Linked DNA regions of Homo sapiens: region 1 is linked to region 2. Evidence: fine-mapped expression QTL. A gene starts in region 2. The other region holds a variant in brackets. All regions are shown on one strand. Distances are from middle to middle. Region 1 holds the start of LOC124902791 (a long non-coding RNA gene). Region 2 holds the start of ARHGAP32 (Rho GTPase activating protein 32).

What was found.
Region 1: its variant is fine-mapped to the expression of ARHGAP32 in iPS cells (PhLiPS, PIP 0.95).

What each region holds. Positions count from the first base shown.
Region 1 is chr11:129,280,971-129,297,357 of GRCh38, reverse strand. LOC124902791 (a long non-coding RNA gene) reads left to right here and starts at 2,200. Exons shown (of 2, transcript XR_007062950.1): 1 at 2,200-2,640; 2 at 10,554-12,398. It overlaps LOC399975 (a long non-coding RNA gene), which reads left to right and starts at 14,194. Exons shown (of 2, transcript NR_145484.1): 1 at 14,194-14,332. It also overlaps the pseudogene ZNF123P. RefSeq lists an enhancer at 13,826-14,327. The variant C/T (reference allele first, on the strand shown) is at 6,490.
Region 2 is chr11:129,183,546-129,199,932 of GRCh38, reverse strand. ARHGAP32 (Rho GTPase activating protein 32) reads left to right here and starts at 7,608. Exons shown (of 23, transcript NM_001378024.1): 1 at 7,608-7,850. The coding sequence starts at 7,735.

The sequences.
Region 1 (16,387 bases), 97 kb before region 2:
GGTCCAAATAAGAATGAGGTAAATTCTTTGTGTAGCTATCACTAGAGAGCTTTGACCCCCATTCAGACTGCATTTTGATTTTTATTCTATTTGCAAGAACCCTGGGGAGGGGAGAGTCACTGGCATCCCTAACGTAGCTCCCAACAGGGACACTGCCCATATTAAACAAGTGCAGGAGGGCTGGGAGGAAAAAGAGCTTTTGAGAACATCATGTGCCTTCCTTAGCGGTGCTCAGGGCATCGGTGGACATGTGACTGGAGAACAGTACTCACAGAACCAGGGCAGAAAGGAATCTGAAAAGGCAAATCATCCTAATTTGCACAAATGAGATCAGGGTTTTCTCATTATTGGCAGATTCTGGGTGAAATCTCAGATCTCCTGATTCTTTCAGTTCAGTTTTCTTCCAGGATATCATTTGGTCAAAAGCTATTGAGAAAGTGAAGAGGAAAAAAAAAAAGATGTTGCAACTTTGTGTATGAATGATGGGTATGAGTTTGCTCCTAGAAGCAAGGGAAAATAGGTATTTGCTACGGGTCTCTAAATTGAAGAAAAGACTTCACCAAAAATGCCAAAATAATCCTCAAAATAGCAGTCTAATTTGGATGAGAAGGACTGCTACAAACATGATGACTGTAAGAAATGTCCCTCACTCCTCCCCACCTCCAGCGCTCTGGCCAATGATAAAGACAAAGAACTGGGTTAAACGGGAGCCAAAGCATAAGCATTATTAGGGCCTCAGTGGGCTTTCCTTGTGTCTGTGCCGCATGGGGTCAGTGGATGCCATGAAATGGACTCAGGGTCCGGTCTTACTTCTCCCAACTCCAAAGGAGAGTGTGAGGTGGGGATGCCAGCCATACTCTAGACCACTCTGCCTAGGAGCCAGTGACCTTTGAGGAAGCACTTGCATACCTCACCAGATTGAAAGGGCCAGCCAGGACCCTGTGCAGAGGGCCCTATACAGAGAGGTGATGCTGGAGCGTTATGCAGGGGTGGCTTCCCTGACTTTTTCATTCAGCTATCCTGTTCTGGTCTCCTAGCTAGAGAAAGGGGAACTCCCATGGAACCCCTATCTCTGAGAATCTCAGAGTGAAACCATAAATGAGAAGGAAGGACTAATTCCAAAGGAGCATAGGTCCAAAGAAACAGAATCCCTCCGACTGACACTGGGAGGGCTGCCAGAGAATACTCCCCAGCACCTAGATTTTGGGAGCAGCCTAGAGCAGCCCCAAGGTCACTGGATGGTCAAGATAAAGTCAAAGAGGGGAGATTTCACAGATGGGTCCACCAGGCATCAGGAGGCCTGTGCTGATGAGAGAGGGGAAAGTGTGAGAAATTAGGAAAAAATGTTAGCGTCAGCACACAACTCTACGAATCAGACAACTCCTACCGGTCAGATAGCTTATGAATGTGGAAAATGTGACAGGTATTTCAGTCAAATGGCAGACTTCCACTGACATCAGAGAGGTCACGGTGATGAAAAGTTTTGAATGCAAAGAATGTGGATGACTTCAGATGCAGCACATTACTTGTTTGGCATCAGATAATGCACACTAGAAATAAACCATTTAAATGGAAAGAATGCGGGAAAGGTTTAAATTCAGATGCAGCCTTGATTCAGCATCAGAGAATCCACGCTGGAGAATCGCCCTCTGAACGTAAGGAGGGTGGCAAGGCCTTTGGCAATAGCTCAGTCTTCCTTTAGCACCAGAGGTTCCACACTGGGGAGAAACTCTGTGAGTGTAACAAACATTGGAAAACTTCTAGTTGTAGCTCAAGCTTCATTGTCCATCAGCAATGCACACTTGGAAGAAACCCTATGAATGTAAAGAGTGTGGGAATCTATTAAGCACGGCCTTGACTCAGCATCACTGAATTCACACTGGAGAGAAGCCCTTTGCATGTAAGGGTTGCAAGAAGGCATTCGATCAGAAAATAACCCTGATTCAGCACGAGGGAGTTCACACTGGTGAGAAACCTTATGAGTGTAGAAGGTGTGGGAGCCCCTCAGCTGGTGTGGAAACTTCGTTATGCATCAGAAGCCACACACTCAAAAGGCACCCATTTAAGCATAGGGCTAGCCACTATCAGGCTCACTACACCCCTCTTTGTTTCTCCCTGTTGCATGATTTTTAAGTGTCCCCACTGTCTCTCCTGGACTGTGTTGATTCTTAACCATATGCCTCTGTCCCCACAGCTCTGCATATCTGGAATGCCCACTTCTCCACCTGTCCAGTCATATATTTAATTCAGACTCTTGGCTTCCATCATGAAACGTTCCTCAAATTCTCTGAGCCCTTGCCTCCCCAACATGAACTCTCTTCACAGTTAGAAAAGAAATAAAAAACAAACTCCAGAACTTTCAAACATAAGAGGAATGTAAGTTTCCAGATTCAAGAATACACCGAATGCCCAGCAAGATGGATTGGGGGAAACCTACATTAAAGAACAACACCGTGATTTATGAAAACACCAAGCTTAAAGAAGAAATCCTAAAAAGTTTCTAGAGAAAGGAAACAAAAGATCAGAAATGAGCATGGCTTTAGATTTCTCAACAGCAACCTTGAGAATTAGGTGACAATGGTGTATGCCTTCAAAGTTCTAAGGAAAATGATTTCCACCCAGAATTCTATGCCTTCAAGGGTAAGTATAGAATAAAGGCATTTCAGACGCATTAGTTAGGCTCATGCATCCTTTCTCAGAGAGCAACACTAAGTAAGGGATAAACCGGGAAATAAAAAGACAGATATGTGGACACCCTATTTCAGTCTGTATATCAGAAGTCTCCTAAGTGCAAAAACAGAGGGGTTCTGTCCATGTGGAGCTGTATGCATCTTGCAGGACACCCTTAATAGGGTGAAACTTTCAGAGATCTACCCGGGGCACGGTGTCCACCCACCCTTCTTACTCTGTGCTACTCAATCGCAGTCTGTGCCTTTGTAAAATTCAGGGTGTACATATCCTTTGAATTAGATGCAAGGCCCTATTTGTCTTAATTTTTTTTTTTTTTTTTTTTTTGAGACACGGTGTCACTCTGTTGCCCAGGCTGGAGTGCAGTGGTGCAATCATAGCTCACTGCAGCCTCCATCTCCCAGGCTCAAGAGATCCTCTCACCTCAGCCTCTCGAGCAGCTGGGACCACAGGCACATGCCACCATGCCCCGCTAATTTTTGTATTTCTTTGTGGAGATGGGGTTTCACCATGTTGCCAAGGCTGGTCTCAAACTCCTGGATTCAAGCGACCCACCCGCTTCAGTCCCCCAAAGTGCTGCTGGGATTACAGGCATGAGCCACCAGGCCCAGCCTGTCTTAAATTTATCTCACCGCTCTTCCAAGTGACCTCAAGGCAGGAAACATTTTCTTGCAACTTCATCTAGTTATTTTTTATGAACAGGGAAGAACCTGCCATTATTTTCTGTTACCTGCGGAAATGAGGGAAGATGTGAATGTACTCTTTTGCCCATCTGCCACTTTTGCAGGCAGCCTGATTTTGCCCATTGCAGGAAGCAGAGGGTAGTGGTTAGTATAATAATAATAATAATACACAGCAAGGATGACTTTGGTTTGAACCCAGGTGCGTGACCTTGCTTAAGTTATAGCAACTCTGTGTTCTAATTTCCTTATCTGTAAAGTGGGGATGACAATTAATCTACCTCATAGGTTTGTGTTGAGTATTTAATGTATTGATGCACGTAGAAGTGCTTTGAACAGAGGCTATATGTAATAAACCAAAGTGTTACCTATTAGGGCTTTAGTGATAGCTAGATTGGAAATGGTGGGACTGGGTGTAGAGGAAGGGGTAGAGAGGAGAGCCAGCTTTCTTGATGGCAGCAGTTCTAAGTAACAGAGAGAGAGAGAGAGAGAGAGGGAGAGAATGAGAGCGTGCTATGCACGGGCAAATATCCATTGCCCAAGTTTCAAAGCAGGGATGGCTGCTGAAAACGGATGCCAGACTTTCAATAATTTCGAGAAGGTAAGACTGTCATCCTCCTCCTTTTATTACCAGCCTTGTTTTAATAAGTAAAGCAAATTGTTCTTCCTTTGTGTTTGCTGTTGTTTTTCAAAAATTACCTAGTGACTCTCAAGTTGATTTTTTTCAATGAAATTTAGAATTTTTAGAAAAATTCAAATTCTAGAAATAAGTTGAGCGCAAGCAGCACATCCTTTTAATGTCATATGGGAACAAAGGCCACCTTAGGATTGTAGGGAAATGTACTTAGTTCATTGTTTACTATTGATTAAAGGTCCCAGACTAATTACCTGCTAAGTGAAGTGCTTGCTAAATTGTACGGAAGTTACCTGCTAAGTTGCAGATTTCTGTCCGGTAGAGATGCAGATAATTTCTGTCATTTGAAACAGATCACCTCAAAGAGTTATGGTCTATTGGGCAATAACCAGTTTGTTTGTTTTTTTAAATCAAATTTGGCAATCTTATCCTAACATTTCTTTGTTAGATTGCTTATAAGAAATGAATTGTTCAAACACTCTCAGAATCAGTCTTAATACCTTACTGGTTTCCTCATTAACTAATGAGTTGAATAAAAGTTTTGACATGAGCTTAATATTTGCTGGGTAGTCAGGATGTTACCTTTCTGAAAATTATCTGTTAATAGATTATGTTTTTCCTAAAAATATCTTACTGGGATTTTGATTGGAATTCATTCCATTTATAGCTTCACTGGGGAGAACTGACATCTTTACAATACTGACATTAACTATTCAGCACCTTGTCTGTTTTTCCCTCTCCTCAGAGTTCTATAGTTTCCTTCATTTAAATAATACACATTCTTGGGTAACTTACCTTTTGGTTGTTGTTAATAGGAGTTGTTTCAGTTTTTATTTTCCAACTGGTTATTTTTTGGAATATAAGAAAGTTTTTTGGTGTGTATAACCTAACTTCTTACTGTATTGTTAGGTTATTTTTAATAGATTTATTAAAGCATTTCCATATTTGATTATAATAATGTTATAATCAAATAATGATAATTTTGCTGCTCCTTCACCAATATTTGTAGCTCCTTTATCTTCTCATGAAGCACCTTCAGAACGGTGTTGAGTAATGGAATGGTGGGCGCTGTTGCTTAACATTATCAGGCTTATTGTGAGGTAAAATGTTTAAAAGGCACTGGAGGAAAAGCATATTTTTAGCAACTTAGACACAAGAGAAAGGTATCTTTACTAGCTCCATCTCTATTTTCACCTAGTTCCTTTCTCCTGCCAATATCTCCAGCCTTGAGTCCCCTATGTATTGGAGACAGGAAGGAAGTTTCATTAGTTATTATTGTATTAACCATCTCCATATGTAGCAACCGTAATGTGCTCTGAATTTACCCGGCATCTCAAAAAAAAAAAAAATGCTGCTTTGATTGAGAGATAAAAGGAGGTGATTTTTAATGTTGGAAGTGAACTTAGAGGAAGTGAGTTGGAATAGGATATACAATTCCTGCAGGACAGGGCACCCTGTCCAGGTGAAGAGAAGGGGCCAAACAGCATTCCTGTTCCTGCCAAATGGCCCTGGTCATTGCTTTGGCCTTGCCAAGGGCAGGGCCCCCACTACAGACTATGTGGAGCTGCGAGCTGAATACAGAGCACTCTTCTGTGCCTCTCGCCTGTGGAGCAGGCTTGTCTGTCCCAGATCACACTTGAATAGATGAAAAGAATCCGTTTTTCCCTTGGCCCGAGGCCTGCAGTGGAGGCCACAAAGGCGCTTACAGACAAACTGGAGTGGAAGTGCAGCAAAGAAAGGCTAGAGAAGACTTAGGAAAGTTTAAGAAGACATCAACAAGAACATGTCTAGCTAATGTAGATAATGAGTTATTCAAATGGCCCCTTTGCTCTCATTTGGAGAAATGAACGTTGCAAAGAAACTAATTACGGCCAGCTCCTGTAGTTTTACTGGAATCCTATCTCTCAACATCTTTAAGAAAATCTAGGTAGAAAGAAAGTTATTGGCCCTAAAGGTGGGACCCTGGGAGATGGGAAAACACATCTTGAGCAAGACCGATTTCTCTCCCTCAAGCTTGATACAGGAATTCAAGAGTTTAACCAAAGGAAGAGAAATGCCGGGTTAATGCATGATAATGACACCCAGTTGGGAAACCTAGTAGTGATTTTTATCAAAGCACTTTGTTTGGTGGGTAATTGTGAGAACGGGTCCCTTTGTTTAAAAGTCGTTTTGGGGAATAGCTGGAAAGACAAGTCCTTCCTCTCGTTCTACTCTGGTTAGAGCCAGTGAAATGGGACTGTCACATCTGAGAAATGATCTCTCCTCATGTTCCTGTCCTGAGTGCTTTTTAAAGTACAGTCCTAAGATGTTTCGGAGACATCTGTCTGTAGTCCTAACCCAGCGTTCAACAAGGAGTAGGATCCACAGGACCTAAGCTGCCAAGGAAGCCTGATTTTTCTAGGTACCAAATGAGTTAACTTTTGGAAACACGTATTTTGAGAAAAAAAATAAGTAGACTATCAGGACTACCATAGGGTATCAGGTCTA[C/T]GATTTTAAGGGTGAAAGTTCTTCTACACTTTTTCCTACAATTTTATTTCTGCCCTTGTTTCCTAGCTGGCTGTTTCTGGCCTTTGGTGGAGGATGGTGTTTTGGAATGTCTGGCTTAGGGCACCTATGTCGACACCACTAGGGATGCGTGTTAAAGTGCAGACCCCCGGGCTCCACACTGGAACTACTAAATCAGAATATCTGAGAAAGAGGAGCAACGTGTGTGCCTAATTCTCTCAAGTTTGAGGAGAACTGGGGTTCTGAAGGCACAAAGACCTGAGTTTAAAACACAGTGTTACTGGTTACTGTATAATGTTAGGCAAATTATTTAGCCCTTGTCTTCAGTTCTCTGGGCTGCAAAGCAGGGATGATTCTATCTACTTGAAATTGTTCCAAATACTGTCATATTTATAATTAACATGAACCTTTAGAAGGAGCAGAAAATGTTTGATACACGTTATTGATTATGTTTGCTATCTTACATCAAATATTTACTCTGCTTCATCCCTAGCTGTTAACATTGATGCTATTCTCCCAGCCTAGCTGCCAGAGACTCCCGAGTGGCTGCAAATCAGCGTGGTTTATTTACATCTTACCCGTCCTTCCTTAGCGCTAGGTAATGAGTCTTCCTATACACCCTGCCTTATAAGCAAAGAAGAGCCAGTCGATGTGTCCCAGGGTTACCCAGGACCCACAATAGGGACAGGCTTCCCTATTGCTCTTGACCCCACAGTTTCCTGCCTTGGTTTTCTTGTCTCTGCCCACTGGCTCTGTTTCTATCCGCAGCTATGCTCAACTTTTCGGTCCCTTCAGGCTCCTTTTGCTGGCCCTTGCTGCTCTTTGAAGTGCAGGCTGTAGTTATTTTCTTCTTACTCCCAATTCTCCCATCCAAGTACTAACCAGGACCGACCCTGCTAGCGAGATCAGATGAGATCGGGTGCGTTCAGGGTGGTATGGCTGTAGACATATTCACAATTCTCTATTAAAGACTCTCCCTTGTTCATTCCCTTTCCTGTGGAACTCCCAGTGGTGCAACAAGGTCCTGCATGTCAGAGGAAGGGGATCCAGATAACCCACACTCAAATTCCCGATGAACACATTCAGAATGGCAGACATATTCAGAACGGCAGAAACATTCAGAATGGCAGGAAACAACTGGACTATTTGCTTAGAAATACTGGTCTTCTGGAGTTAGAGACTTTCGTCCTTACTCCATTTTATGAAAGTCTTCGTGTTTGCTCAAGTCTACTCTTTTGTCTTTCAAGGCTGAAAAGTGCGTCTGCGACAGCCTTTTCTGGAAGGAAGGTGTGTTCAGTGGGTTGTGTGGGAACAGTTCAAACAGCATTGTGAGCATGACAGCTTCCAAGTCAAGGAGTTGGTTATTAATTGCTCAAAGCTTGAAATGCCAAATATATGTGAGTGGGAGGTTATGATTTCTCATTCTCTGTCTCTCTCTTGCTCTCGTTTTTCATACGTAAGTTTCAGCAGTTGGACACTCTCCCCAAGAGAGCAGCGTAGAAAAGAAACATCCGTGGCACAGTTGTCCCTCCTTAATGGTTGAGTGCACAAAAGTTACATATAAAAAAGGTAGCATGAAGTAATAATGCTCCCACAGACTCTCAAAACACCAACTGTAAGCTACTTCATTCTTATGCCATTGTAAGGGAAGGAGTTGGGCAATATTATCATCCCCGGTATTCAGGTGTGAGATTGGAGGAATGGAAGCATTCAATCATTTCCCCAAGGTCGCTCTGTGAGTCTCTGGTGGAAACTGAACTTCAGTAACAGCGCAATTAGCACTTCATAAGCACCTGGTAGACCTTGACACTGCTGATCCTGGGTCCCTGGAGATGTACAGCTATTCTCCAGATAAATACTCTCTCTCTCTCTCTCTGTCCCTCTCTCTCTCTGTGTGTGTGTGTCTCTCTCTCGCTGTCTCTCTCTTCTTCTCTTTGTCACACACACACACACACACACACACACACACACACGTACATACCTATGGTTGCATAGAAACAGGAACCTTCACTCTTCCTGGGCTCTGCTTTTCACAGGGTAACCAGGTATGTTATACTGTGATAACACACCTCACAGACATGTGTGTTGGGTTAAAGAAAATCCTGGATTTGTAGATAAAAAGAACTATACCATCTCTGTGGGGATTACAGTACCAGTCCTGAATTCTGGGATATGACTGATCACAGTTATATTGCTTAGAAGTGAAATGAAAAATTGAGGTCTGAATAAGTTTAATTCAATGAACATGCAGTAATAAAGATAGGCTACAAGGTAAATAGATTTATATTTACAGAAAACCATACAAATATAAAGTATTTGGGAGTAAAAATTAATGAATATGTGGACCAGGTCCTGAGGGAATATGCTAAGAACTGAACCTATTTCCTATAATAAACTGAATTTAGGCAATAATTAGTACCAGCCAGCATTAATTGTGTTCCCAACTGCTCAAGGAGTTTAGTCAATTATAAAATTGTAACGGTTCTACCAGAACATGCGTGAACTTGGGGACTTTTCTGGTTTCATCAGCCAAGGCCCAGGGCCAAGACCTCAGCATAAAACCAGTCTTTGCGACTCTCCTCGGGACTTCCCAAGGAAAAATGGGAAATCAGTGTCAGATAGTGTTTTAAGAAACAGCTCTCCTGGGACTCACTTTTTAACTAAACAAAATCCTTAAGGCAAAGGACTGAGGCACTAGGCATGGAATTCTAAGTATCAGCCGGTGGGTGTGGGAAGAATTCTGACTCTCAGAAGTCTGTGTTGTGCACACACCTTTAGTGATAAGATTGCTCCACCAGCCATTACAAGTTAGAGAAAAAAAAAAAAAAATCATGACACTAGAAATGTCCAACAACAGGGGACTAAAAAAATATGGCATAGACATATGATTATATACAAATAATGTAGAAATATTTATTGGCAAGAAAAGTTTAAAAAGCATTAAGGGGAAAAAAGCAGATTGCATGCATTATTTTCAGTATGATCTTGTTTCTGTTAAAATTTTTTATATATATCCATGTACATGAAGACATGTAGAAGATATGTACCAAAATATTAATAATGATTACCTCTGAATTGTAGTTATGAATTTTTCCATTTTACTGCCATTTCTAATTTTTTTAAACCAGGGGCTTGTGTTGTTTTCTCTCTTTTTAAATCTTTTTGTTTTCCTCAAATATAGAACACTATACAGGCTACTCTGAATAAAAATGGTATTTTAATTTAACATAAACACAAAAGGCTATCCTCCCTTTTATCTCCTAAAGTAAGGAGAGATTCATGAGCTGCTTAGTAGTTCATCAATCATTCATGTGTCCTATGTTCCAGGTGTAGAGTATGGGAATCTAGGCTAAACAAAGCTGCGCTGCATCCTGTGTTCCTCCATAGAGAAGACTGAGGAAATTTCCACAGCAGCAGGATACCAGGCAGAGTTTCCAATGGCAGTGGGCTACTGCCATTCATTTTATTTCTCCCACCCTGGACACATGTAGAATATCAAGGTAGTCTTTGAGGTAGGACAGTTCTTGTGATCTCTTAGGTCATCTCATTGGGTTCCTGCTGTTGCTGGCCATGGGGCCATCCCTGACACTTTAAAATTAGTTACTGACACAGATTCCTAAAAGCATAGTCTGAGATATAAAAGTTATTTCTGAGAAACAAAGTTGCTTCATTCTGAAGACTACGTTTAGAGGTTGTGCACCAGCAGACAAGAGTTTATGTAACAGTTTGTCTTTGTTCCTCGAGCCATGTGTGACCTTTCTGCTCCTTCCTGCTGACACCATCCCCGACCGAAAAAGACAATCTGCTCAGCTTAATGTCCCTCCTTCCCTCTGGAGCCTTCGTGGAGTGTAGTAACAGCAGCTGCATGACTTGTACATAATGTAAATACTTTATTTACTTTTGTATTTAATTTATGCATCTGTCCAATGTTTGCACAGCTGTTTGATGTCTGTATACTCGGAGATTAGCTTTTGTGGGTTTTGTCGATCTTAAACCCAAAGCATAGAGAAATGGAAGGGTCTCATTATTTGCTTTTCTTTGCCCAGCCTCCAGCATGGTACCATACAGATGAGAACTTAATGAAGAAGGATGCTTCTGAGTAAGATTTAGTCATCTCCTTGAAGATACTTTTCTCCTTTGGAAAAGGAAGAATCAAACTTTCCTGAACTTCTCAGGGAGAACATGGTGGTTGACTTTGTTTCTTCTGTCAAAGGACATCATTATAGTACCAAGGTGACATCGAGGAGGTTTTAACTCTCCCAAAAAGTTGCACCAGAGGATTTGGGGAGGTGTAGGATGTGACAGCCAGCCCAGAAGCAGGGCTAGTAATTATAAAATGGGTGACGATGGAAAAATTGCTCTCTTCTTCGGGGTTACTTGCCCATCAAAGAACAGCAAGGACTGGGCATGTGAAATGCCAATGGTTTGGCTAATCAACACGCCACAGCTTAGCTGGAGTCACTGTACTTGAATGTGGTTTTGTTTTTAATGCTGTGTTCTTGTGGGCATGGAAAGAGTTACAGCCAACTGCCCCAGGTATGGTAACTAGAGGCGGTGGTGGAAATGTAAATGTAAGGACCCTTTGTCTTCTCCCCTCCAGTAGTAAAGGGGACGAAAGAGAGTGGAGAAGGATTGCACTCTTCTGGTGGACTTTCTCCTGTGATGCACAGAAATGCACGGATAACGTTAAAAATATTTTAAATTGTATTTATTTATATATTTTAGAGATGGGGTCTTGCTATGTTGCCCAGGCTGGTCTCAAACTCCTGACCTCAAGTGATCCTCTTGCCTTGGCTTCCGTGGTACCTACCTGTAATCCAAGCTATGATCGCTTGAACCCAGGCATTTGAGATGAGACTGGGCAACACAGTGAGACCCCCATCTCTAAAAAAGTATCGTCTTGTTTTGTGTGACCTGGCCATCAACACATATTTACAAAAAAGAGATATCTCTCTTTTATTATCATAAAGCATAGACTGAATTTTAGATAGGTTTTGAATCTCTCTGTGCCTGAATTTCTCTCAAAATTAATAGTGCCTCATATTTGATAAAGCACTAAGTTTTCTTTTGAAAGGTGCACAGAAAACTCTGCATTGCCTAAATTATAATTTTCTCAACTATTTGACCCAACCTATCACTGTTGTAGTATTCTTTAACAGAGCATTCTGTTACCATGAGTAAGGGAGTTGCTGCTTTTTTTTTTTTTTAAATCAATCAAGAACTACAGATAAGTACTTTTAAAATCAGACCATGACTGGGGAAAGCAGGAGTCAACGAGTCAGTTTGAGTCTGTTATCAGCTCTGCCTGAGACTGGCCTTTTATATCACTCTGAGGAGTAATGCTGTTTGTTTTCAGCATGAAATACATAAGAGAAAAAATTAAGTAGGGAACAGGAGAATAATATTTGGATAGGGTAGTTTTATTATTTTGTCTGACACATTATGTCCCCTAGCCCTCAGTATATCCAGGGATCATCTATGCTTAAAGTTAAATACAAGATAACTTCCCAAGCCAAGTACAAGTGATTTTAAAAAATAATAAAATGCCTTATAGGATTACCTACTACAGTTCTTAAGTTGCCCAGGAAACATCACATCACTGCATGCAGTGTCAGAGACATCGGTAAATCCTCCGCCAACAAGTATTTTGAATATAGCAGAAAAACACAGATGTTTTAGACCTTCTGAGATGCATTAAGTTCTGGAAACTGGAAGCCATAAAAGACAAAATCGTGGGAGGGGAATTGCTGGGAGCACCCTGGGAAAGCAGCCACCCTGGAGTTGAGTGACCTCTCTTTGATCTCTAGCTTTCCCAAGTCACTTTCCCATGCATTTCCTCAACACTGGTTTCAGTTCTTTAGATCTAATAAAAGCCTTTGGGGTTGGGAGCATCACTGAGTAGAGTGCTGATTCAGGCCAAGCTTGGAGGGAGGAGTGGAGCATTCAATGTGTTTACAGTAAAGTGTGTGTGTGTGTGTGTGTGTGTGTGTGTGTGTGCGCGCTTATGAGTAATAGCAACTTCTCACCACTGTCACAGCCACCAATGGGAGATTTAGCTTCCTCCAAGTCACCTCAATTAAACATACGCTCTAAATAAAGCAGCATGCTTGCTGGAGACAGAGCTTCAAAAAGTCCCCTAGATCTCTTTCTCCTTCCAAACATTTTGCTGCCCTGAAGCATGTCATATATAGAAATGTTATAGTTGCCTCTTTGTTCATTCATTCTTTCAAGGATCTCCACATTATATTGTTTGATAAGAAGTGGAATTAATACTTTACACAAATGCTTGCATTTCCGTGCTATTCCTTTCACTTCCTGATCATAGTGCACTCTGACTATAAAATGGATTACGTGTTGTTCCTCCTAATGCTTCAGTATATAGAGCCTCCCATGGTAGGTGATATACTTGGGTGACTCTACAGGTTGCTTCGCGACTTCCAAAAGTTTTTTCTGATAATTTTGGAAGTGCTGCATGATTTAGAAATGCTGATTCACTTCAGTCTTTAGACACATTGAAAAAATATATTATTTCTTCCTCATTTTCAAAATATTACACAAAGAAGTTTGGAAAGTAATAATAATCACTGTTCACTTGCAAAATTCCTTTCTTCTAAAACATTTTTATAATAATTAAGTCATTCTATCTTTATGATACCCAACTAAAGAGGACAGCGGGCAAGCCCATTTTACAGATGGGAAAACAGATGTTAATTGCCTTGTCCAAGACTACATAGTGAGATAAGATAAAAAATGAAAGGGAAACTTGTCCTCCTAAAATTTATGTTCTTTCTCACCATGGTGATTATTTCAGTTTGGATTGAGAAGCCAATTCATATAATTTGGCTTTTTCTGTGCCTTTAATTTCTACATATTAAAACCTAATTGCAAGGTTAGACTGTGATTTTGTCCTACGGGCACTAAATTCCTCATGTAATATGTACCTTTCTCTGCTGAATCTTGATATTTTCTTAGATTTTCAGTATAGTTTGTCTTGATTTGACTTGCAGTGCACTGCAAATGATATAATTTTATTGTGGAATATATGAGGCTGGAGGGCTGGGGAGAGGTCAGAGCTGAAAGTACAGGAAATTTAAATTACATAATGTTACACTTTGCAATTGTTTCCACTTGTACTAAGTATAAAGATAGATCCATGGCAATACACAACAGCAGGTAAGAAGTGTGTATAAAGACTTTGCACCCTGATAGTACCATTTATGTATTCATTTGGCATAAACATACCCATTTGTGAATAAACAAAGTCCAGGCCCTCATGGTGCTTACATTTTAGGAACAGAGTCCAATAATAAATATTGATTACACAACATAATCATGTAGTGATAAGTGCTATGAGAAAAAAAAGAAGCAGAGTAAGGGGACAGAGAAGGCAGAACTATTTTATATAGTAGTAGGAAGGTTAATTTAAAAGCCAGGAAGGTGGAGTCTTCCTGGCAGGTCTGAGAAACCTCAGGAGGGAGGTGGGTGTGGCTGAGGCAGAGTGAATGGCAAAAGGTAAAAAACTGAACTGGTGAGTCAGGGCTGAAAGGACTTGAAAGGCTGGGAAAGGACTTTGGATTTTATTGCAGTGTGATTAGAAGCACAGGGCCCTGGAGTGTTTTGGGCAAGAACAAGGACATTATCTTACCAATGCTTTACAATAAATTCTCTGGTGGCTGTGTAGAGGCTAGACCGTGGAGGGGAAAAAGTGGAAGCAGGGTGATGGTTCGTCTGTCCCAGTCACCCAGGAGAAAGATCACGGGGAGGGCAGACATGGGTGTTCGTGGTTAAGAGAGAAGGATGCGATTGGCTTCCGTACCATTTGAAGGTAGGCTAAAATGAACGTGGTGATTGAAAGGAAGAGATATTTTTTGTCCTGTGATGAGGCAGACTTGGAGGAATCAGTTTTGGGTTTTGTTTACAATATGGAAATCAAAAGTTCTGTTTGAGACACATTAAGTGGGAGATATTCAAATGGAGATGCCTGGAGGCAGCAGGATATAAGAGGGTGGAGTGCTGGGGAGGGGCCAGGGTTAAAAGTAGAGGCTACTTAAAGCCTTGCTGGAGGATGCTGCCTAGGGTGGCAGTGTAGAAAGAGAACAGGAGGGGCCCACGGTCAGAGCCCTGGGGCAGGCAGCAGATAGAATCACAGAGGAGGCCAAGGACCCCATTCAAAAGTGGACATGTCAATAGGTGGAGTTGGTGTTAAGGTTTAAAGACTGAAAAAAAAAATTTCATAGGAGAATAACACAAAGTTCTGAATTACTATGATAGAGGTTCATGATGAAAATGTGATAGGGAAAGGAGAGAAGATGGAAAGTTTATCATTTCAATGAATGCATCAGGGATTAATAACATCTCAGTGAACAGCAGTACTGGTGTTCCTTAAAATGTTGCCCATGGTAGTGGGCATGGATTCCATGTTTACAGGGGCTGTTTCACGAGCGTCAATATTAGCAAGGAGTATGCTACAGACAGACAACACATCTTTTTTTGACATCTCTTTTTAATAGGGACACAATATGCAGCTGGCGCTTTGGCCAGGAAAGAATAAATAAGCAAGACAATGTCAATTGTCGCTTTGGGAAAATTCTGTGTTAAAATTCTCTATGAAACCTGGCCTACTTTCAGCAACTTTTCTCAATACAGCTGTTGAGCATTCTCAATTTGGGGATGCAAATAAGCTTCTTCTCTCTCCCTTGCTCAATTCCCAGGCCATCTTTCAAACTCAAGGTTAGGTACGTATTGCAGTCCTCTGTGTGGCTGCCCTCGTCACTGGCCCTACTTGTCTGCACCGTGACGCTGCTTCAGCGTCTAGAGGGGACTGCAATGCAACAGATCTGAGATGCCAGGAGTGAACCCAGATGCTACCTCCTGGCAGACAGCAGTGCCAAGACTGAGAAAGGAGGCCAGCCTGAGGTCTCCAATAGCTTCGGCAAGAGGGGGAATTTGTTTTTTCCCCTCCCCTCCTACCCCTCACCTTGTACATATTGAATCAAACCATACATAAGCTACACATTCAGTTATTTAACATTGGACAGACTTTTTCTTGTATAAGGAATGTTGCAATTTTTTGTGATTTATGTATTTAATCATTAAGGGTGTTATTAGGACAGAGGTAATTGATTACAAACATCTGAAACGCCAAGGGCAGATGGCTGCAGAGTTACCCAGCAATCACAACTTCCAGTTCATATGCAGGTTTGGCAATAATAACTAGGACACAGGACATTTGGACAGTGTGGCCCAAGGAGAGGGAGTGCTGGCTCAGAATGAGGTTAAGGAGCATCACCAGCACCCTTGAACTTGCTCAAACACCTCTAATCTTTGGAAAACACACATGGCATCCCTTTGTTCTCTTCTATAAACTAGATATACTACATATAAGGAGAGAAAGTTACCAAAATGTTTAGAGGCTCTAAAGTAAAATATCTGTGTCATCCAATGTATGCATAATCCTAGCTCTTTTATATATTATGTACCTCCACCACTTAACCATAAACCATTTAACATCCATTCAGCTGCTGTGGCTGACTTTCAGGGTGCGGTGGTGAAACTGTGGGATGTGAAGGATTTCTGAAAAGAATGCATATTGTCATCGAGTAGCCAAGAGACTGGGGCCTTGGGCAAAACTTGCTTCTCATAGTGACTTGGTTTTCTGTCCCACACGACTTCCTCTTGCTATCACAGGATGTTTGTGTTTAATGCTCAACAAACCCCTAGAACAACAAAAGCTACCTAATCCATACCTGTCCCTCTCTGGCAGAGATGGCTCTCTGTGGCCCAAAGATGAACCCCAGGGAATTGCTGCAGTTTGGTGAAAGAAGAGTTTTAAACTATGGCCTTATTATGCTGAAGTCGAAGGTCTCTAGTTTTTGTTCTT
Region 2 (16,387 bases):
CGGTTCCCATGGTCTTGGGCAGCTCTGCCCCTTTAGCTTTGCAGGGTACAACCTCCCTCCTGGCTGCTTTCACAGGCTGGCATTGAGTGTCTGCAGCTTTTCCAGGCTCACAGTGCAAGCAGTTGGTGGATCTGCCATTCTGGGGTCTGGAGGACGGTGGTCCTCTTCTCACAGCTCCACTAGGCAGTGCCCAGTGGGGGCTCTGTGTGGGGGCTTCAACCCCACATTTTCCTTCTGCACTGCCCTGGCAGAGGTTTTCAGGAGGGCCCCGCCCCTGCAGCAGATTTCTGCCTGGACATCTAGGTGTTTTCATACATCCTCTGAAATCTAGGTAGAGGTTCCCAAACCTCAGTTCTTAACTTTTGTGCACCTGCAGGCTCAACACCTTGTGGAAGCTGGCAAGGATTGGGGCTTGCACCCTCTGAAGCCATGGCCCAAACTGTATCTTGGCCCCTTTTAGCCATAGCTGGAGCAGCTGGGGCACAGGGCACCAAGTCCCTAGGCTGCACACAGCAGGGGGCCCTGGGCCTGGCCCATGAAACCATTTTTCTTCCTAGGCCTCTGGGCCTGTGATGGGAAGGACTGCCACAAAGATCTCTGACATGACCTGGAGACATTTTCCCCATTGTCTTGGTGATTAACATTAGGCTCCTTGTTACTTTACAAATTTCTGCAGCTGATTTGACTTTCTCCTTGGAAAATGGGTTTTTCTTTTCTGTTGCATGGTCAGGCTGCAAATTTTCTGAACTTTTATTCTCTGTTTCCCTTATAAAACTGAATGCTTTTTAACAGCAACCCAGTCACATCTTGAATGCTTTGCTACTTAGAAATTTCTTCTGCCAGATACCCTAAATCATCTCCCTCAAGTTCAAAGTTCCACAAATCTCTAGGGCAGGGGCAAAATGCCACCAGTCTCTTTGCTAAAACATAGCAAGGGTCACCTTTACTCTGGTTCCCAACAAGTTCCTCATCTCCATCTGAGACCACTTCAGCCTGGATTTCATTGTCCATGTCATTATCAGCATTTTGGTCAAAGCCATTCAACAAGTCTCTAGGAAGTTCCAAACTTTCCCACATTTTTCTTTCTTCTTCTGAGTCCTCCAAACTGTTTCAGCCTCTGCTTGTTAACCAGTTCCAAAGTTGCTTCCACATTTTCGGGTATCTTTGCAGCAGTGCCCCACACTACTGGTACCAGTTTACTGTATTAGTCTGTTTTCACACTGCTGATAAAGACATACATGAAACTGGGTAATCTATAAAGGAAAGAGGTTTAATTGACTCACAGTTCCACATGCATGGGGAGGCCTCAAAATCACGGCAGAAGATGAAGGAAGACCAAAGGGACATCTTACATGGCAGCCAGCAAAGAGAGAATAAGAGCCAAGCGACAGGGGTGCCCCTTATAAAACCATCAGATCTCGTGAGACTTATTCACTAGCATGAGAACAGTTTAAGAGAAACCACCCCCATGATTCAGTTGTCTCCTACCAGGTCCTTCCCACCACACATGGGAATTATGGGAGCTACAATTCAAGATGAAATTTGGGTGGGGACACAGCCAAACCTTATCACTTGTCTAAGACCACACTATTTGTAAATGACATAGTTGATATTTGAGTCTGAGCTTGTTTGACTTCAAAATACAGTACCTCCATTTCTATTTTTTCTGGTTTTATAAGAACAGCTTTTTGAAAGTGATTTTTATTCATATATCCTTGCAATGGTGATGATGTATTTTAAGATAGCCATTTTAACTTTTTTATAGAAATATCATTTAGCTTCTATGAACAGTTGAAAGTTAGATCTCCCTTTGAATACATGTGTTTAGTGAAGCAAAATCTGCTCTAACATGAAATTGTCAGTTTTCTATTCAAGTAGACCTTTTCTGTTATGTTTAAAGTTACCTGTAGAGAATCATATTAAATTAACTGGATTCTTTATTTTTGATATTTTCATGAAATAAAGTTGCCATAGTATGCATAAGAATTGTTTCCTCTTTAGATACCATTGTGAATTAAACCAAATGTCAATGTATATATAATGATCCAGAATACATCAGTGTTCCATAATAAAGAAGGAAAGAGTTGTTTTTTCAAAGTTAATTATTTCAGTGGAGGAAACGCCTACAAAAATGATTGTTATAAAAAAATCTAAATTTTGAATGAATGTATAGATAGTATAAAAATGAATAATGATGAATGACATTTTTACATTATATATATTGTGCTCCATACATTTGGAGGAAAATCTTCAGTCATTGGAAATATTTTAGAAGGATTCTTGCTTAATTTTTCTTTCTGATACAATTATATGATACATACATATATATTACACAGAGCACACATTATTCACATTTAGAATACAAAATTTTCTGAGAAATTTTATATTTATATTTATATTCATATTCATGAAGCAGTCTGTGGACAAAGCTTGGTGCCCAATTAAGGAGACATTTATTGACCCCTTGGCTATGTGCCATGCACTGTATTGAACAGTTTTGAAAAAAACAATTATTATGATGGGAGAACAGGAACAACGATGTCAGAGCATCAAGATCTTGGTTCTACTGCTTTGCTATTGTTTTGCTGTGTGATATCCTGTCCATACCCCTCCCCTGATAGTGAACCCAAATGTATACTGCATTCAGCCATGTAGATAACGGGTATTGGATATAGAATTAGATGTAGGTCAGCATTTCAGCAGTATCATGGCCCATCCCCCAAAAAGGAGAAAATAAAAAACTGTGAGATCAGAGACGTCTAGGCTAATAAGTGGAATGTGGACCAAAATGCAAACCATATAGTCTTCCCACAGAAGTAACATTTCATATGGTGTGGTTAGGTTTGGATTTTTGAAAAGTATTTTTATTTTTTTTTGAGATGGAGTCTTGCTCTGTCACCCAGGCTGAAGTGCAGTGGCGCGCTCTTGGCTCATTGCAACCTCTCCCTCCCAGGCTGAAGCTATTCTCCTGCCTCAGCCTACCAAGTAGCTGGGATTACATGCATGCATCACCAAGCCAGGTTAATTTTTATATTTTTAGTAGAGACGGGTTTTCACCGTGTTGGACAGGCTGGTCTCGAACTCCAGACCTCAGGTGATCTCCCTGCCTTGGCCTCTCAAGTGCTAGGATTACAGGCATCAGCTACTGATCCTGGCCTGAAAAGTATTTTTAATGCAAGTTTATGAACTGGATAATCCTGGAGAAATTATGATGCTAAGTCTCAGTTTCTTCACCTGTAATATGATGGCTCCTGCCTCATGAGGTGGTTGGGAGAATTATATAATTCGTTATGTTTGGGCCTTAATCCAATGCTTGGCATATAGAGTCAGTGCTCAGCATATGCAGTCATCAGTTGGTATCCATGGGGAAATCGTTTCCAGGACACCCTGTGGATACCAACATCTGTAGATACTCAAGTCACTTATATAAAATGTTGTAGTATTTACGTATTACCTATGCACATCTTCTCATACTTTAAATCATCTCTAGATCACTTATAATAACTATCAATGTAAATGTTATGTAAATAGTTGGCATACAGTATTGTTTAGGGAATAATGACAAGAAGAAGCCTGTACATGTTCAATACAGATAGGACCATCCCTCTTTTTTCCCTGAGTATTTTTGATTCAACCAAGAGGTTGAATTCATGGATGCAGAACCCATGCATACGGAACCTGTGGGCCAACTCTGTTGCTGTGATTATTACTACTTACCACTGCTACTAGGAAAGTCAGCACTTTTAACAATGTTTCTCTTCGAAAAAATTCATTCTGACTTGCAGTGTTTAAATTGTTGCTGTAAGAATGCTTCTCTCTTTGCTGCTGTGGGATTAGCTATTTCCCTTCCCCTCAGGTTCCCTACCTCTTGGAGGTAGAAGATGAGAACCAGCTAGTTCGAAATTACTGCTGGTGACTCCTGTGGTTTCAGTCAAAGACTTCAGCTCCATAAAAGCTTGTTGGGAAAGTGAAGGCTGATCAGGGTTTAAACAAATCAGGAAGAAAAGGAGTTAAAACCACCTTGTGGTCTTCAGCAGTATCTAGTCTCTCTCACACACTGGTAGCCAGAGTGATGGACTCGGCTGTGTTCCATCCCTGCCCCCGCTGTTAACCATCACCTGTTGATTCCGCTGGATTTTCATTTACTACTGGAGAAGGGAACAGAAAACAGAAACACATGTAGGTTTTGAATTTAAAAACTTTTTTTCCTTTTTTTTTGAGACGGAGGTTCGCTCTTGTCTTCCAGGCTGGAGCGCAATGGCGTGATCTCGGCTCACAGCAACCTCCAGCCGAGGCGGGTGGATCACTTGAGGTCAGGAGTTTGTGACCACCCTGGCCAACATGGTGAAACCTCTTCTCTACTAAAAATAAAAAATTAGGCGGGTGTGGTGGCGGGTGCCTGTAATCCCAGCTACTCGGGAAGCTGAGGCAGGAAAAACATTTTTAAAAAACTTGTGATGGCAGAGTCAAAACAGAACAAGCCTCGGAAGATGTGCACATTTAACTGTCCTTCAGTATTCTGTGTAAAAATACCACTCACAGTTCACGTTTTCACTTTTGAAAGGCTCGAAGTGAGGGAAATCAACCATCATAATGAAAGAACAAAAGAATGATTAAAAGAAAAGGTGAATAGGATTCATGAAAACGCTTTGAGGCCGGGCACAGTAGCTCATACCTGTAATCCCAGCACTTTGGGAGGCAGAGGCAGGCAGATCACTTGAGATCAGGAGTTCGAGACCAGCCTGGCCAACATGGTGAAACCCCATCTCTACTAAAAATACAACAACAACAACAAAAATTAGCAGGTGTCGTGGCACACACTTATAATCCCAGCTGCTTGGGAGGCTGAGGCAGGAGGATTGCCTGAACTGGGAGGTGGAGGTTGCAGTGAGTCGAGATCGTGCCACTGCACTCCAGCCTAGGTGACAGAACAAGACCCTGTTTCAACAAACAAACAAAACAAAACAAAACAACCCCCCCCCCCACAAAAAAACAACACTTTGAAGGAGTTAGAGTTGTTTAGAAAAAAAAGAACTAGATTCTTAATGAAATAATATTTAAAAATCCAATTCTTTACTGAAGGTCATGAAAGATTCTATTTAAAATTAGTTAATATTTTGGTAAGGATTATATGTGCATGACATAGTGAAAAACTATCTTTCTTTCTTCTTTTTTTTTTGAGACGGAGTTTCACTCTTGTTGCCCAGGCTGGAGTGCAATGGCGTGATCTCGGCTCACTGCAACAATCTCCACCTCCCGGGTTCAAGCGTGTCTTTCTTTTATTCCTCTTCTCCAGCTGTCTGTTTTCCTCCGTGGAGACAACTACTGGTACTAGTACTGATCCTCTTCTTCCATAGATAGTCTGCATTTGTTTCTCCTAACTCCTCATTGAAAACACAGATGGCAGCATAGCATACTGCACATACTGCCCTATACTTTTACCCCTTTCTTCTTTGCCTTAACAGTATTCCTTAGGCTTTGTTCCGTATTGTGACCTGTAGGGCTGCCTTGTTTTCTCATATACTCACTGTGTAGCATTCCATTCTATGGGTATTCTGTAATTTGCCTAGTTTTCTATTCCTCAGGAAGTTAGGTTGTTTTTGCTATCCTATTTTGCTACTATAATGTCTACCAGAATGAATGTTCCTGTTTGCCTCTTACTTCTACTTGTGAAAGTGAGATAATTTCCTAAAAGAGAAATTGCTGGGCCAAAAAGATGTGCATTTTGAATTTTGGTAGATTTTGCTAAATTGCCCTGAACACAGGTTGTACCAGTTTAAACTCCCACTGACAGGCATGTTTCTTTTCCCATGTCCTCTTTCAGTTTGTTAAAACCTTTTAAAAGCTTTGCCTATGTGATAGATTTTTTAAAAGTCATCTTATTATGTATTGTTTTACATTTCTGTTATCAGTGAAGTTACTTTTAACATCTTTTAAGTTTCTTTTATGTTTATCTCTGAGTATTATATTTTTGCTCTTTGCCTATTTATCTTTTGAGCTCTTGGGTCTTAGAAGTTTTTAAGAACTTTTTATATATTAAATAAATTAACCCTTTGTGATATGTTTCAAATATTTTTTTCTCAACTTGTTTGCATTTTGACTTTGCTTATAATGTTGTTCTGTTGTTTTTGGTTTAAAAAATTTTTTTTGAAAAGTTTTTAAAATTTATATATGTATTATATGTATTATATAATATATATTATATATAATATATAATATATAATATATATTATATATTATATAATATATATTATATATTATATATAATATATATTGTATATGTATTATATAACATATATTATATATATTATATAACATATATTATATATTATATATAACATATATTATATAATATATATATATTATATATAATATATATATATTATATATAATATATATATTATATGCTCTAGGGACCTGCATATATATATATTTTTTTTTTTTTTTTTTTGAGACAGGGTCTTGCTGTGTTGCCCAGGCTGGAGTGCAGTGGCGTGATTATGGCTCACAACAGCCTTGAACTCCCAGGCTCAGGCGATCCTCCCACCTCAGCCTGTTGAGTAGCTGGGACTACAGGGTGCACCACCACACTTGGCTGTTTCCCGCCCCCCCCCCCCCCCCCCCATAAAGATGAGGTCTCGCTAAGTTGCCCAGGTTGGTCTTGAACTCTTGAGCTCAAGTGATGCATCCACCTCAGCCTCTCAAAGTGTTGGGATTACAGGCGTGAGCCACTGTGCTTGGCTCTTTATTTTTCAAATATGAAAATTCAAGAAGACTTCAGTAGATGTCTTCTTAATTTTTGATTAAATCAGATACAGTGGAAAGTCAGGGCTTTGCAGTTTGTTGCTGCTTGGTAAAAGACAAATAGCCATGAATATCCAGCAGGTCAGTAGTTTCTGTCAACATGGCTCTTTTCTAAGTAACAGTTGTGTTGTTGACAGTCATAGATGCTATACCTTTCACTCATTTCCCAGCAAGTCATTTTATTGCCACCATGACTGTTTGCAGTTTAAATGTGTAAAACTTTGCATGCTTTTATTTGATGTGATTGTCAGCATCTTTGAACTTGGGACACTTAAACTTTTTTCTTTCAAGGACTGTGGACAAGCCCAGCTTTTATGTCTCACTCTGGATACTTGAGCAGAGATGCATATGGCAGTCCTTACTGAGAGGAAGGAAAGATGGGTGTAATATTGGAAGGCATGAACCTAGGCAGGTCCCTAGAGCATACTTATCTTCTCTACTTATTGTGAGCCTCCTTAACTGTGAGATCTATAACTGTGCTTCTCATGTGCTTGGCCAGTGGATGGTGTTATTCTTTCTAGTTTTCTATTTACCTTTCTGGAGTCCGAGATCAAAAAAGGATACAAATAAAGCCTGCATTTTGAAAATACCTATTTTTAACTTATTAAGTGGAAACTTTGAGAAGAGTCATTATTACAGAATAATTAGTAAAAAATCACCTTCATTTAGATTCTGCTTTTGGTTATGTAGGTCACGCAGCCTAAGGCAGTGGGAGGGTCTAGGTGTCACCAGTATGGCAGTCAGACGCAGTGACTGTGCTGCCTGTGATTTCCTGTCTGTACCCTGACTGTAATTAAACCAGCACCAGTACCTGTCACTAGGGCACCAGACACACATCTGAGTATACATGAGTAGAGCTGAACAACCTGAATGTTGGTGCTTTTTATTCCATGCCTGGAGGTTTAGTTTTTTTTGTTTTTTAAGTACAAGATGGAGACTGAAAGTGAGAGTAGCACTTTAGGGGATGACAGTGTCTTCTGGTTGGAGTCTGAAGTTATAATCCAGGTGACTGACTGTGAAGAGGAAGAAAGGGAAGAGAAGTTCAGGTGATTATGGAATTCACAGTTCCTTTGTCCTGTCCACTCCCTACCCCCACCCGCACCCCTTTTTCTTCTCTGCATTTCGGTCTTTTTTCCAATAAGACTTTCTGTTTTCTGGGGGAAGGTTTGGAGCTCAAGGGAGCAGGTTTTGAGTTGTATATAGCACTCCTCATTCCACAACTTGCCCTGAACTTGTAAAATGCATTTTAAAGGACTTGTTAGAACGCCAGGAGGAGAAGGTGTTAGACAGGTTTTGTAGTAGCCTTTCAGGAATTTCAAGTAGACACTCATAATGAACTACTACCCCTTCCTGTATCTGATTTGTATCAAATAGATTTGATCTGAATTTGTATCTAATAGATTTTTCTTCCTCTTTTTCTTGGAATGTGGTGTGTGTGTGTGTGTGTGTGTGTGTGTGCGTGCCTGCCTGCCTGCCTGCTTTGTTTGCCTTATGCATGGGTATGAAAAATTCCGATTAAGTACAGATTGGTTATTTTGTGGCTTTGATCTTTACCCTTGTCTCTGATCTTGTATCTCATGCCCCCTTTCCCCCAAATCTCTCTTGGTTTTTGAATCTCTGGTAGTATTAGTAACTTCATAATTGAAGTTTTTAGAGGATGCCTCCTGATGAAGCAGCTCTCAGTTTAGTGTCTGTGGTGAAGAAAGATGTCTTAACCAGTTTGTGAAAACAGAACCAATGTTTCATTCATTCTGTTGTACTGTTGCAAATTTTAGGGGGCTTTATTCTGGCTTTTCTTTTTCTTTCAGAGTTAGCGATGTAATACCTTTGAGTATCACAAAAATCTCTTGATGAAGTTTGAAGTTTGTTGCTGCATATTATCACTGCCACTCACATGTGCAATTAAACATCTTTTATAAGTTTACCTATGAGAACTTGGATAGGTGAATATACTGTTTTCATCAGATACTGTCTTTGTGTTTAATGCTGAAAAAGAGTTTCTCCTTTTCTCGAGTCAAAGGATTTCTTTATCCACAAATTTTATTTTTTAAAGTCTAGGTTAAATGATGGAAGGGATTGAATATTGGGAACTCTTGATAACCCTCACTAAATTTTTTACTCTGGGGTTCAAATAAATGAGAAGTATATTTAAAATTTTAAAAGAATAATTTTCAGAGTATAAAAATGAATTATTAGCATATGATTATTTTTTGTCTGAACTTTTGTCTCATTTTCCCATAATTTTATCTAGCCTTTCAAATTTGAGTAAGTCCCTTCCCTTCCAAGGTATGCTAATTGTTAGTCACATGTTCTGCTTTTTAATATGGTTTGTGTCTTGCTAACAATGAGTAGGACTGAAGTATTTGTTTTGCTTGTAATAAAACTTTTTGACCTGGTATTCAAATTATGGAAGTTATTTGGGTATTTGTCAAAGGAAGAAACAACTTGGAACTTATTTCATTGTTGTTTTTATAACAGATTTGGTACTGTAATCCTAGATTTACTTGTAAGGCAGTGGGCGTCTCTCTGGGATTTTCTTTTGACAGTTAAAAGCAAATTTGTGTAAGGATGAGCTCTTCTTTTCCTTGGGAGTATGTGACAGCATTTTCACTCTGAGAAACTGAGCTAGTGATGTGTTGTTTAAGGAAACTATGATACCATAGGGCATTTCTCTTCTGTTTATATTTCCTATCTGAATAGCACCATGGCTCTCCTAAATCAATTATATCTTTGTGATTTGATCTGATTTTATTTACAAATGTAACAAAGAGGTCTGGGCAAGGCCCAATTTCATGTAGTGTCTCTCACGCATTCAGCAGTGAGGCATGAGGAAATGTGGCAGCAGAGTGGTTTCACAACCTCGTGGTGGTGTTCCTGCCGAGATGCCCTACAGGAAAATGGAGGCATGGGTGTGGAAGGGGAAGGGTCGGATAGGAGTTGCAGCTGTAACCTTGGGAGGACCAAATAGTAGACTCAGTGTGGTATGACAGTTGTTTTTGTAAAATCAATGTAATAATTTTAAAAATGTCTTACTGTGTTTTTATAAAAATCTCTGCAAATACATGTGACATCAAGCTGTCGTATTGGTTACATTTCCATTCACATACACACACATAGCTGAGATGAGGGCAAAAGATTGTGCACTTTTCTTTTTCCCTGAATAGCTTGTAAACTACATTTTAAATGCACTCTTAAAAGCCTGCTCTTGTGTAACTTAAGGCACCATGGCTAAGAGAGTAAAGTCATACCACACCTAGAATGTAGGCTTCTGGTGCTTCCAGGTGCCATCTGCTTTAGGAGGAAGTAGTCTCAGAGACAAGTTAATGTTTGTCCAGTAGCTTTTGAAATAGCATTTATTTTTGGACTCAGTTGGAGGAAAGGATCCTTTTTATTAACACTCTTTCACTATGGGAAGTTGCCGGTCTCCTTCATGGTGGTAGTTTAAATTTGTCTGCCATTGACTCACAGATCTTTCATTTTCTGATTTCTTATTTGTAGTCGGTATTATTACCTACCTTGTCACTGTGGTAAAATAGTTATTAGACTAGAATATTTAGTCCTTAGAATAAAATAGTTCCTAGAGATGATTAGAAAAATCCATCCCTGGATAAGAAGGAGGAATATAAGGCAGAAAAGGAAAAACATAAATGTTTTAATTCTATCAAGAAAGAAAAACTTTACTTAGAAATTGTTATATGTAATGTACTAGGCCATATATATGCTTTATACAGTGTATCAGTTAACTGCTTATCACTCCTATAAAGCAGGTATCATTTTTCCTATTTCCTCGGTGAGGAATTTATGGCTCAGAGAGTCACACAGCCCACATTTGTCATGGTGGAGCAAAATTTTGCAAGTGGTAGCACAAAAATTTGAACCCAGATGTAACTGACTTTGAAAGTGAAGACTTTAATGAAAGATTTTTGGGGCTATCTTCTGCTAAATGCTATTTTCTGCTAAGTGATAACTTATAAGAGGCTACAGCTGATATCTCAAGTTTTGAAATTCCTTTTTTTTGAGGAGGTTATGAGCATCAATGACATATAGATTATGTGACCATCATAAAAATGAAGTAATGAACACAATAATGTGACTTTTAAAAAATGTGACCTCTAGGACACCTAGGAATCATGAAAGGTTCTAGTTCTTTGGCATTTGAAGGTAGAAATGTTTATCATATGATTTTGTTTAGACTTCCCTAATACCACGTTATGGGCTGATAGACAGCCTGGCAAATATGACATATAATTTGAAGCAGCTACAGAGATGATATAGTGCTTAATTGAACCATATTTTTGATCACGATCTGTAGATGCCCAGATCGCTGATCTTCACGTATATCTCCATTATTAAGGCAATTCATTTTAAGTGACGAGAAAGTTCTGACTTTAGTTAAACTGGATGATTTGGTGAACATATTTTAATTGGGGGGGACAATGCCTTTATTGATTTATAGCATTATAGAACTAATGATACTTCATGCACTTGACTCGTTGGTTGGTTGCATTATTCATCCTCTACCTCAGGGGTTCCCAACCCCTGGACCGTGGACCAGTTATCTTATTTGGAAGGATGCCACAAGTTAGAAGCTATTGTGGCAGTCTAAGTAGGTAGTAAGGGTCTTGACTGTGGTATTGTACATCTTCTAGGCTCAAAACAGCTTTGAACTCCCAGGCCCAGGCGATCAGATCAGATCTAGATGATTTCTTTTAATGGCTCATTTCCCCTGGAAGCCCATAAAACAATTTCAAGATTTTCTGTTTTTATTACTCTGCCTGTTCTTTTATCTTCTGCAGAAATTCTTGATTTCAGGCTTCCCAGCCAGTTTTAATGATCCTGGAAGTACAGAGAGGTAGTATTAACAATTAACTGAGGCTGGGCATGGTGGCTCACACCTGTAATCCCAGCACTTTGGGAGGCTGAGGCAGGCAGATCACCTGAGGTCAGGAGTTTGAGATCAGCCTGGCCAACATGGTGAAACCCTGTCTCTACTAAAAATACAAAAATTAGCTGGGTGTGGTGGCGGGTTCCTGTAATCCCAGCTATTTGGGAGGCTGAGGCAGGAGAATTGCTTGAACCTGGGAGGTAGAGATTGCAGTGAGCTGAGATTACGGCACTGCATTCCAGCCTGGGTGACAAAATGAGACTCCATCTCAAAAACAAACAAACCTCAACAAACAAAAAAACCACACAAAAAAACCAAAACAAAAAAACCCAATTAACTGTATGTCCATAAATACCATATCACACCCAGGCCCATTTTATACTGTGTGGCTTTTCAAAGGCACCACATCTTTAATAACCTATTACTTATGATGTCAAAAAAGATGTATATTTTGCCCAAAAAGCTACAACTTATATTGTTTTGTAACCTTGAAGAAACATCTGGGATTTAGTTTAGCCCCTAAAATATTATTTTAAAAAATTATTTTTAATTTTAGGGGGTTCATAGTGGGTATATATTTTTATGGGGTACATGAGATGTTTTGATATAGGCACACAATGTGTAATAATCATATCATGGAAGATGGGGTAACCATCCCCTCATGATGGGATATCCATCCCCTCAAGCATTTACCCTTTGTTTTATAAACAATCCAATTATACTCTTTTAATTATTTTTCAGTGTACAATTAAATTATTATTGACTATAGTCACCCTATTGTGCTATCAAATACTAGGCCTTATTCATTTATTCTAACTACTTTTTGGACCCATTAACTATCCCCACCAGCCTCCCACTATGCCCCCACCACCCTTCCCAGCCTCTGGTAACCATCCTTCTACTCTCTGTGTCCATGAGTTTAATTGTTTTGATTTTTAGATCACACAAATAAGTGAGAACATGTGATGTTTGTCTTTCCGTGCCTGGCTTATTTCACTTAACATAATGACCTCTAGCTCCAACCATGTTGTTGCAAATGACTAAATCTCATTATTTTTTATGACTGAATAGTATTCCATTGGGTATAAGTACCACATTTTCTTTATCCATTCATCCATTGATGGACACTTAGGTTGCTTTCAGATCTTGGCTATTGTGAACAGTGCTGCAACAAATATGGGAGTGCAGATACCTCTTCAGTAGACTGATTTCCTTTCATTTGGGTATATGTCCAACAGTGGGATGGCTAGATCATATGGTAGCTCTATTTTTAGTTTTTTTGAGGAACTTCCAAACTTTTCTTCATAGTAGTTGCCTAATTTACATTCCTGCCAACAATGTGTGAGGGTTCCCATTTCTCCACATTGTTGCCGGCATTTGTTATTGCCTTTCTTTTGGATATAAGCCATTTTAACTGGGGTGAGATGATCTCTCACTGTAGTTTTGATTTGCATTTCTCTGATGATCAGTGATGTTGAGCACTTTTTCCTACGCTTGTTTGCCATTTGTTGCCGTCTTTTGAGAAATGCCTGTTCAAATCTTTTGCCCATTTTTAAATCGGATTATTACATTTTTTCCTATAGAGTTGTTTGGGCTCCTTATATATTCTGGTAATTAATCCCTTTTTGCAAATATTTTCTCCCTTGCTGTGGGTTGTCTCTTCACTTTGTTGATTGTTTTCTTTGCTGTGTAGAAGCTTCTAAAATATTCTTTTAACAGTAAGTATAACATTCACCCAACATACTCTCATCAGTGAATTTAATAGTAATCAGCAAAGTCTGATATGAACATCCCTTAATCTCAGAACATTTTAGGCAGTAATGGAGTCTAGCCATTAGGCTGTCTTCATAATCTGTGAAATGAATCTGTCTTAACCGTGAGGCATGCCAGTACAAGACTTTCTTGGTATTTTAGTAATTAAGCCCTTTGGGATGGAGTCCAAGGTGGGCCTTTCTTGTATCTATCTGTATGAGTATTTTGATGTTCAAGAAAGGCCCTAGAGTACACAAACGATATAGACCTGTATAAAAGTTCCTGGTTATTAGGTTGTTTAATTGAAGTTAAAAAGTTTAAACCCAAACCTAATTTTTCTAACTCTTGCATTTCACTTTGGCACTGAACTCTCTTAAATAGTCAATAGGACTTTCAAAAATAAATTGAAATCCCTGAAACATTTAAAGCTCTATTTATAAATTAGTTAATTTTCTTTTTTTTTAAATTAAATATGTCAAGTGACTAGCTTAGCAAGATGATATTCAGAGCAGGCAAAACCTTCCCAGATACTTAATTTTGGAAGTTGCGCTATACTTTTCTTTACATTAATGATTAGTTTCCATTTCCATGTTCTCATAATCATACATGTATTTTCTCTATTTGAAAATAAAATGATTTCTTTCACCCAGGTTTTCTCTCTCTCTTTCTGTGTATGTATGTTTGTGTTTTAAATCATGGTTCTCTCTTCTCCTCTACTTCTCTTCCTTATAAAATAAGATCTTTAGGAAACTTTAACTTCCTCCTTCTCTCAGTCTCATACTTCTAGATGAGACTTTTGAAACTCTTTTATTCACCCATTCTGCCTCCGTCAGTTTAATGTTTTTTGCTTTTCATTCAGATTTAATTATTTGTGTCATTTTTTTATTATTATTATACTTTAAGTTTTAGGGTACATGTGCACAACGTGCAGGTTTGTTACATATGTATACATGTGCCATGTTGGTGTGCTACACCCAGTAACTCGTCATTTACATTAGGTATATCTCCTAATGCTATCCCTCTCCTCTCCCCTCACCCCACAACAGTCCCTGGTGTGTGATGTTCCCCTTCCTGTGTCCAAGTGTTCTCATTGTTCAATTCCCACCTATGAGTAAGAACATGTGGTGTTTGGTTTTTTGTCCTTGTGATAGTTTGCTGAGAATGATAGTTTCCAGCTTCATCCATGTCCCTACAAAGGACATGACCTCATCATTTTTTATGGCTGCATAGTATTCCGTGGTGTATATGTGCCACATTTTCTTAATCCAGTATATCATTGTTGGACATTTGGGTTGGTTCCAAGTCTTTGCTATTGTGAATAATGCCACAATAAACATACGTGTGCATGTGTCTTTATAGCAGCATGATTTATAATCCTTTGGGTATCTACCCAGTAATGGGATGGCTGGGTCAAATGGTATTTCTAGTTCTAGATCCCTGAGGAATTGCCACACCTACTTCCACAGTGGTTGAACTAGTTTACAGTCCCACCAACAGTGTGTCATTGTTTAGTGTTTATGTTGCTTCTTCTCTGTATCACATTCTATCTTAATGTATCAGTTTTGGATCATTTGTATTTGCCTGATACGTTCTTAAGTATTTTTGTTCAGTTAAGTTCTCTGGGTGATATTCTCTGATTTCTTGTATAAGCTCAAATGCCAATCTGTTTTTTTCTTTTCCTTTGTAGGTAACATGTTCTTTTTGCCAGACTACTTGTTAAGAGTTTCTTTTTTATTGTTATGTATATTTTGTTACCCGTTCTTTAGTTTGGAGCTTAGTGAGTTCTTTATTTTGGAACTTAGTGACTTTCAGTCTACAGAGTCAAACCTTTGTGTTAGGGAAGAAATTTTTTTGTTTCCTATTATTGCCTTTGCCTCTATTAAGTCCCCTTAATCTTTTATTTTATGATATATTTCTTTTTACATTTTACTTTGTGAATTGAAGTTTTTTTGTACTTGTTCTCTTAGCTAATTTCATCTTCTTTTTTAATTGTTCAAATTCAATTTGAGTAGATAAATTATTTTTAAGGGTTCTTCACGTATAGATACATACACACAAGGTATTTTTATAATAAATTTAGGTTATTTTCTTTCTTTTTGAGCTTTGGAGCTTTATTCATTCAGTGTACATGTTCTGTTTTATTCTGACTGTTCAGAACCTATCTTTTAGCTGCTAAGCAAAGTATCTGCGCTTCTTTGCCCTTTCCCCTGCTGTGTTTTCTTCAGTAGCCCCCATGATGCATATGGCTCTGCCTTGCTTGTCTTAGGTGCACACACCCACATTAGGAGCCCTAGTCCTTCTGGTCAGTTGTTAAATTACTTTACAGGGTAATTTTCCAGTTTTTGTTAGTACCCTGGGGGCAAGCATCTCTCTTGTTGTGGAAAGGGGTGGGGTATAGCCTTTGAACTTCTGTTTTTCTCTTTAGGTCAGTATGATACCACTTGCTTTTAAGTTTTTCAGTCTTTTAGTCTTTCAGAAGTGTATCAAAGTCTGATCTCTGGCCTTCTGGTGCCATTCATACCATTCTGTTAAGGATTTATTTTTTCCTATTTAACTTAATGATTTTTGAGACACTTGGAGAAGGAGAGATTTGCTTCCTCACATATATGCAGTCTAGGATTGGAAGTCCACTGGGAAGTTTTTTTCATAGGTTTTGAGAGGAAACTTTTCTGCAGGGAACATTCACTGAGGCAGAATCGTGGTGCCTTTCATGCAATTTGGTGGGTCTTAGGAGTGTGAATGGCTGCTTCAGTGTCTTCTTCAGCTGGCAGGTGGGGTCTTCCAGAAAAAAATAGTTTACCACATCAGGAATGATGAAGATATGGTCAAGCATTCCACTTTTCCTATCTGCAAAACAGGGCTTAAAATAGTATATCAAACAATAACTAGTTAGAAGATACAATGGAAGAAAAAGTGCCACTTTCAGGAGCAACAAAGATGAGATAC